3 separate regions of the Homo sapiens genome follow, and regions 1 and 2 are each linked to region 3. Evidence: fine-mapped expression QTL. A gene starts in region 3. Each other region holds a variant in brackets. All regions are shown on one strand. Distances are from middle to middle.

Region 1 (2,500 bases), 110 kb before region 3:
CAACTGAAAAATTATAGGGTGAATTTGATGGCTACAGAGGAACAATTGCTTATTTATCTGAGAGACAGGGTCTTGCTCTGTCACCCAGGCTGGAGTGCAGTGGCACGATCATAACTCACTGTAACCTTAAATATTTGGGCTGAAATGATCCTCCCGCCTCAGCCTCCTAAAGTGCTGGGATTACAATCATGCAGCATTGCGCCCGGCCTGAAGTGATCCTTATTAACATGCACTGAGCTCTCTTGTATGACAGGCACCCCACCGGAGACATTCCTGCACACTATTTAATTTTCACAGCAGCAGGCCAGGCACAGTGGCTCACACCTGTAATCCCAGCACTTTGGGAGGCCAAGGCGGGCAGATCGCCTGAGGTCAGAAGTCCCAGACCAGCCTGGTCAACATGGTGAAACCCCGTCTCTACTTAAAATACAAAAATTAGCCGGGTGTGGTGGCATGTGCCTGCAGTAGTCCCAGCTATTGGGGTGGCTGAGGCAGGAGAATCGAATTGTTTGAACCCAGGAGGCAGAGGTTACAGTGAGCCAGGATTGCGCCACTGCACTCCAGCCTTGGCGACAAAGCAAGACTCCATCTCAAAAAAACAAAAAAAATTTACAGCAGCAAAGTAGGGGTTATGACCTTTATTTTACATAGGAGACAACTGAGACCAGAAAAGTTAAACAACTTCCTCAAAGTCACACAGCCAGCACCTCACATGGAAGGGATCTGAGCCCCGCCAGCCTCCCAGACCTATTGTGGGGTTCCTGACACACTACGTTGCCTGTCGCTCAATTTGAAACCTGATCTTAAGGGTTTGAAAACAAAAACCGGCTTTTCTAAAAAGAATGACCTGTTCCCCAACAATGCAAAATACGGATGCACACGGTTATTCGTTGCACCACTGTTTGTAATTGCAAAATTGTGGAAATACCCTAAATGTCCATTTACAGGAATGTTCTGCCACTGTGGAAAGGAATGAGGAAGCTGACTCTGCACTGATAGACAATGATTTCC[G/A]GGTTTTGTCGTCATGTGGAAACAAAGCAAAGTACAAGAATCTACAGCATGCCATATTTTGTGTAAGAAAGAAGAAGAAATAAGAAAATGTTTGGGCTGGGTGTGGTGGCTCACACCTGTAATCCCAGAATTTTGGGAGGCAGAAGCGGGCAGATCACCTGAGGTGAGAAGTTCGAGACAAGCCTGGCCAACGTGGCAAAGCCCCATCTCTACTAAAAATACAAAAATTAGCTGGGAATGGTGGCAGATGCCTGTAATCCCAGCTACTCAGGAGGCTGAGGCAGGAGAATCACCTGAACCCGGGAGGTGGAGGTTGCAGTGAGCCAAGACCTAACCACTGCACTCCAGCCCAGGCTACAGAATGAGACTTCATCTCAAAAAAGAAAAAAAGAAAATGTCTGTGGACTTGTCCATTTTCGCAAAAGTAAGCAGAGGAAAGAAAAGGCAGAAATTGATGCAACGAGCCACGTAATAATGGGAGTTGCAGTCAGGGGGCAATGGGGACAGGGAGAGTTGGGACGCTTTTCTGAGTGCCCCATTTTGCAGAGTGTTGACCTTCAGGAACATGTTAATGTTCTACATACTGAAAACAAGAAAAAGTCAACAAAGATCAGGGTGGCAGGAGCCCTAAATGGAATGTAAACTGAAACAAGTGAACCTACCTGTATTTCAAATGAATAAAGTAACCACATTAAAGGGTAGTGGAGGAAGAGAACGACTCCAGATAACTTTGAACGTAACACTTCCATCATATATACTCGGGCTAAACACAAAAGAACTGCATCCAGTACTGAACTCTACCTAGAAGCCTTACTTTTTGTTTTTACAGTGACATGGGCTGGAAATTCTGAAATGAACTTCCCTGTATTGCTCAGTGTTGGAGAAGAGATTTACAAGTATGAAAAGGGAGAATATTAGAATGAATTCTAATATGTGGTGGCAGGGCACGGTGGCTCACACCTGTAATCCCAGCAACTCTGGGAAGCCAAGGCAGGCAGATCACCTGAGGTCAGGAGTTTGAGACCAGTCTAGCCAACATGGTGAAACCCCATCTCTGCTGAAAATACAAAAATTAGCCAGGTGTGGTGGCACATGCCTGTAATTCCAGCAGAGGTTGCAGTGAGCTGAGATGGCGCCACTGCACTCCAGCCTGGGTGACAAGAGTGAAACTCCGTCTCAAAAAAAAAAAGAATGAATTCTGTGGTGCTGGATTGAAATTGTTTTATAGATAATCAGTAGAATAGACAGAAAAATTTAAGTTGGCATATACATGTATATGTGTGTGTATGTATTTTATATATACATAATATATTATATATGTATTTTTTATATATATATATATATTTGTACTTATACATCTTGGTGTGTATGTGGGTGTGTTTCTTGGTTCTGTCTGCTGCAGAGGCCTAGTAGCACTCCAGTAGCAATGACTGCTCCTAGGACTCAGATCGTGGTTTCTAAAAACCATCCCCCAGTAAAAGGAATCAAG
Region 2 (2,500 bases), 100 kb before region 3:
ACTTCCCTCTCAGGCCTCAGTCACCCCATCTGTAGACTTGGAGGAGTGACTACCCCATGCCCTCCATAACTGACAGGGTTGCAGTGGGGGAGTTAGTGATGTCATGGAATGGGAAGTGCCAGCTAACCTGGGAGGTGCAGGTATAATGGAATTCTGCAAATTCCAGTTAGACTCACTGATGGAGGCAGGGCAAATCAGATAGCAGCTCCCACCATCAAATGATGTCTACACCTGGCACATCTCAGGGGCTCGGGAAGAATTTGCTAACTGCAACAGGAATGGGAACAACAATAACGATAATATTCAAATTGCCTTTTTTTTTTTGAGATGGAGTCTCGCTCTGTCGCCCAGGCTGGAGTGCAGTGGCATGATCTTAGCTCACTGCAACCTCTGCCTCCTGGGTTCAAGCAATTCTTGTGCTTCAGCCTCCCAAACAGCTGCGATTACAGGCATCATGCTTCAGCCTCCCGAGTAGCTGGGATTACAAGCATGTGCCACCATGCCCGGCAAATTTTTGTATTTTTAGTAGAGACAGGGTTTTGCCACGTTGGCCAGGCTGGTCTCGAACTCCTGGCCTCAAGTGATCTGCCTGCCTTAGCCTCCCAAAGTGCTGGGATTACAGGCATGAGCCACTGTGCCCAGCCCCAAATTGCTTTATGCAGTGTACTACTTATCCTCAACAACCCTCAGAGTCGAGATCACTCTTTGCCCAAGAGCTGGGATCTGAACCCAGACAGTCTGGTTCCAGAGTTCATGGTTGTTATGGGTTGAATTATGTACTCCCTCCCAAATTCATATATTGAAATCCTCATCCCCAGCATCTCAGAATGTGACCTTATTTGGGAATAGGGTCATTGCAGATGTAATTCCTAAAGATGAGGTCCTTCTAGACCTAATCCAATATGACTGGTGTCCTAACAAAAGGGAAATGTGGACACAAAGACAGGCATAGAGACCAGAGGATGTGAGGAGACACAA[A/G]AAAAACTAGATGACCACCTACAAGCTGAGGAGAGAAGCCACCCAGCTTGTGGTGGAGTTGCACAGTGTCCCGCGGCAGCCTGGAGAATGAATACAATGGCCTTAATCCCAAGTTAAACCGAATGCATGCATGAATGAATAGCTTGCTTTGGACTGCAATTAGAAACACCTAGTCTGCCATGCGCCTTCCAATCCTCATGCCTTCACCGGCCCTTGTCCTGGCCAGCTACCTGTGAGTCACATGTGTTTAAAAGGGGAAGAGGAGGTCTACAGAAAAAAAAAATAATAATAATAATAATTAAAAAGGGGGCCGGGTGCAGTGGCTCATGCCTGTAATCCCAGTACTTTGGGAGGCCAAGGCGGGCACATCACCTGAGGTCAGGAGTTCGAGACCAGCCTAGCCAACATGGCAAAACCCTGTCTTGACTAAAAATAAAAAAATGAGCCGGGCATGGTGGCATATGCCTGTAATCCCAGCTACTTGGGAGGCTGAGGTAGGTGAAATGCTTGAACCCAGGAGGCGGAGGTTGCAGTGAGCCGAGATAGTGCCACTGCACTCCACCCTGGGAGAGAGAGTGGGACTTGGTCTCAAATAAACAAACAAACAAACAAATAAATAAATAAGGGGTGGGGGGAGTGACCAAGGACAGTAACTGTCACACTTTTGACTTATTTGACAAAAATTTCCTGTGCATTTCACACATGCATGACCCCCTTAACAAAAAGGTAGAGAGGTTTGCCTCCATGTTTCTGTTTAGTTTGACAAGAGTGAAAGGGTGAAGGGACCCTCACCTCAGTAACCAGTCCCCGGGGTGTCTCAGAGAGATCGCTGCCGAGCAAAACCAGACAGCAGAGGGCGCCCTTCACACGTGCTCACCAAGTGCTCAATTTAATTTGCAATCACAGACTCTAGATTCACTTTTTCTCATTTAAAGCAAACTCTGCATCACCCACGAAGACAACAGCAACAGTACTGGCAGCTGCTGTGTGCCAGGAACAATGTTAAGCTCTGTATGCACATCTTATTCAGCCCTCACAACCACCCCATGAGGGAGGTACTATCAACATCCCCCACTTTATCCATAAGATGAGCAGGACTCAGAGAGGGCAAGCCACTTGCCCAAGGCTGCACAGCCAGGAAGGGGCTCCAGTGTCAGGCAGGCCACTCTATTGCTCCCAAACCCCTCTTTGCCCCTAAGGTTGCAGCTTTAAATTCTCAGGTCTCTGAAGCATACTTTTCCCCTCTTCACCCCGGCTCTCTGCTTCCAGAAATTTCACTGCTGCACAGCATATAACCTGGAGACAGGGACTTTCTTGGGGACGGGGGTTCCCAAGTCTTGCAGAGCCTGCTTGGGTAATGTTTCCCCCCGTATGCTTATTAACGGTTTATTATTAACTTATTAACGGCTCTGTGCAAGAGGACTGAAACCTGGGTTCCTGACCCCTCCCGTCACTCACCAAGTGACCTTGGTCTCACCTTGAACCCCAAGGACAGGGAGCAGAAAGGGCTCTAGACATTGTC
Region 3 (2,782 bases):
AGAGAGGAGGCAAGGAGAGGCAGGGGAGGCCCCCCACCTGCGCCCCACCCCGTCTCTTCTTCCTCCCTGAGAAACCGAATGAAAGCCGATCACCTCCCGCCGGCCCTGCCTGCAGGCCCAGCTGGGCTGCGTCCTGTCAGCCCTCGTCCGGGATGGCCCGGCCGCTGCGACCCGAGGGCGAGCCCCGAGGGCGGCCGGGCTGGAGAAAGGCCCCAGGGCTACAGGCCGGGCCCAGGAAGCGGCTGCGCCTCGAGGCCCGGCCTGGGCCGCCCAGAAGCTCAAGAGGCCGCTAGGTCGCGGCGGAGGGGCGCGGGGGGGCGGCCGGGCCGGCAGAGGAAGGGGTGCGGCGGGCGCGGGGGTGGCCCCCAGATGCGGCCCCGGGCGCCCCGCCGCTCACCTGCTCCAGGCCGCCTGCAGGGCAGGCGCGGGGCGAGCGGCGACCAGCTGCTCTCTCGGCCGCCCCTTTATTCCGGCTCCATCCGCGGCGGCGCGGCCTACGCGCGCTGCCAATCCCCGGCCTCGCGTAGCGGCTGCGGCCGGACCGGGGGCGGGGGACGGGCTAGCGGCGGCCGGAACGGAGGAAGCGACGCGCGCTGCCGGAGTAGCGGGGCCGGGGCGAGGAGCGCCGGGAGGGCGGGCGGACGGACCGATGGCCTTGCGGAGACGGGCGGACGGGCGGGCGGCGCGGGGGCCAGGGAGGCGGGGCCGGGGGAGGAGCGGCATCCCGGGCGGCGGCGGCCAATGCGGGAGGAGCGGGCGGCGCGGAGCGAGGCCGCCCCCTGCCGGGGACCCCGTGGCCGGGCCAGGTCGGACAAGCCGGGTGCTCCGGGCGGTTTTCGAGTCGCCAGGCCTGGGCGCCTCGACTAACCGAGGAAGGGCGCTCTGCTTCCGGCCACCCCGCTCGGGCTTAGGGGAGGGGGCTCCGGGTGACCGCCCTCGGCCCGGCTCTGCGCAGGAGAGGAGGGGCCTCCTAGAGGCTCTGGTCTGCCACAATTGATCCGCCCCTAACTGCTCAGCTTGGCTTTTAGGGGCTTGGACTTTGGGCTGGTTTGAGGAGGGGGCTCCAGGACCTCTGATCCTGGCCGGGCTCGGGGCAGGCAGGGGTCTCCGCTGGGTCTAGTGCGCTGACCCGGGACTGTCGTGTCTGGTATGTCTGGTCCCGGGTGGCTGCAGACAGCAGCGGGCAGAAAGGTGAGGGCCCTGAGCGATATATGAAATGGGTACACGAAGGCTGGGGAGGTCCCAGCGGGGTGCCGGGAGGCTGCAGGTGACCAGATCCGCGTGCGCAGCCGGCAGACAGCTTGGAGTCGGTGGGCTGAATCTTCACCACTGTCCTGCCGGGTTCCGCCCCTCCCGGCTCCGCCCCGAGGCGGTGCCAGCCCAGGCCCCGCCCCTGGGAGGGCGCTTCCGGCACAGCGGAACTCCGGGTGCCGGTTGAGGTTGCTGGTGGACCTGCTCTGGTGGTCTTGGATGAGGCCCCATGAGCGCGGCGCCCCTGGTGGGCTACAGCAGCAGCGGCTCCGAGGATGAGTCCGAGGACGGGATGCGGACCAGGCCGGGGGATGGGAGCCACCGTCGGTGAGGAGTGAGGAAGTCTCTCCGGAGGGCGCGCGCATTCACCCTAGAGCCAGACGGGACCCGAATGTCTGGGGGTGGAGTGGGGAGGGAGGATGCGGGGCGGCTCTGGGAAGGAAAAGGGGACGCAGGAAGAAAGGAGGATCCAGAAGATATACCCCTCCCCCCCACCCCAGACAAAGCTCCAGAGTGGCCCCACCTGGCTAGGGCCAAGTTGGGAGGCCAGACCTGGGTTCGGGTCCAGCCTCGCGCTGGCCCACTCTATCGCCTGGCACACATCCCTGTACCATCCTAGGTCCGTTTCCTGATTTGAATACAATTGCGATAGTAATACTTGCTAAAGCGTAGGGAGAGCCTTTTCATTCATCCAGTAAATATTCACTGAGCACCCACTCCCTGCCAGGCTGGGGTCTGGTAATTCAGTGGTGAACAAAACCGTCGGCCTTACTTCCTGGGGCTTAGATTCTTAAATGCTAGGCCTTATCTTTGCTGAGTGCTTTACAAGCAGTAGCTCAGTTGATCCCACAATTGCTCTATCAGGTAGACATATACTTTCAGATGAGGCATTTGAGGCCCAGAAAGGGGACATGACTTGCCCAAGGTCATAGAGCTAGAAAGTGCTACTCCAGCTGCAGCCTGTCCAGCTTGGAAATGTGACCCCTGAACCACATTGTTGCATGCCCTGTTGTTTCCCATGGGGACCTTGTGCCCCAGAGTTGGAGACCCCAATGAGACAATACTGGAGAAACAATTTCGCTATCTAGAAGCTGCTTCCAGCACCAGGCTGGAAACACACACTCAGAGCCACCATATATAAGGGGTTACAACTTTTGTGGTATATACAAAGGTAGAGAATGCTAACAGGATAAATGTACTCATTTTTCTTTTTTTCTTTTGCAGTGGCCAGAGCCCCCTTCCCAGGCAGAGATTTCCAGTACCTGACAGTGTGCTGAACATGTTCCCGGGCACCGAGGAGGGGCCTGAAGATGACAGCACAAAACACGGGGGACGGGTGCGCACCTTCCCCCACGAGCGAGGCAACTGGGCCACCCACGTCTATGTACCATGTGAGTGATGTGTGAAAGGCAAGTTGCCAAGACCCATAGACCCGTAGGTGCCTCATGAAGGGCAGAATCTGGCCCCAACTAGAAGGAAGAAACCAGAAACCTCTAACACTGGTGGTGGGAAAGTCATTGACTTAGCAGAG

What was found.
Region 1: its variant is fine-mapped to the expression of USB1 in whole blood (TOPMed, PIP above 0.99).
Region 2: its variant is fine-mapped to the expression of USB1 in whole blood (TOPMed, PIP above 0.99).

The regions. Positions count from the first base shown.
Region 1 is chr16:57,893,214-57,895,713 of GRCh38, forward strand. The region is part of intron 31 of CNGB1 (cyclic nucleotide gated channel subunit beta 1); the gene reads right to left. Among named protein-coding and RNA genes, the nearest start is that of CNGB1, 77 kb to the right of the region's middle. The variant G/A (reference allele first, on the strand shown) is at 1,012.
Region 2 is chr16:57,898,072-57,900,571 of GRCh38, forward strand. The region is part of intron 29 of CNGB1 (cyclic nucleotide gated channel subunit beta 1); the gene reads right to left. Among named protein-coding and RNA genes, the nearest start is that of CNGB1, 72 kb to the right of the region's middle. The variant A/G (reference allele first, on the strand shown) is at 979.
Region 3 is chr16:58,000,004-58,002,785 of GRCh38, forward strand. It overlaps USB1 (U6 snRNA biogenesis phosphodiesterase 1), which reads left to right and starts at 1,404. Exons shown (of 7, transcript NM_024598.4): 1 at 1,404-1,578; 2 at 2,476-2,642. The coding sequence starts at 1,481. It overlaps ZNF319 (zinc finger protein 319), which reads right to left and starts at 669. Exons shown (of 2, transcript NM_020807.3): 1 at 1-669. RefSeq lists enhancers at 1-22, 880-1,049, 1,222-1,516, 1,543-1,642 and silencers at 143-272, 323-922, 1,213-1,462.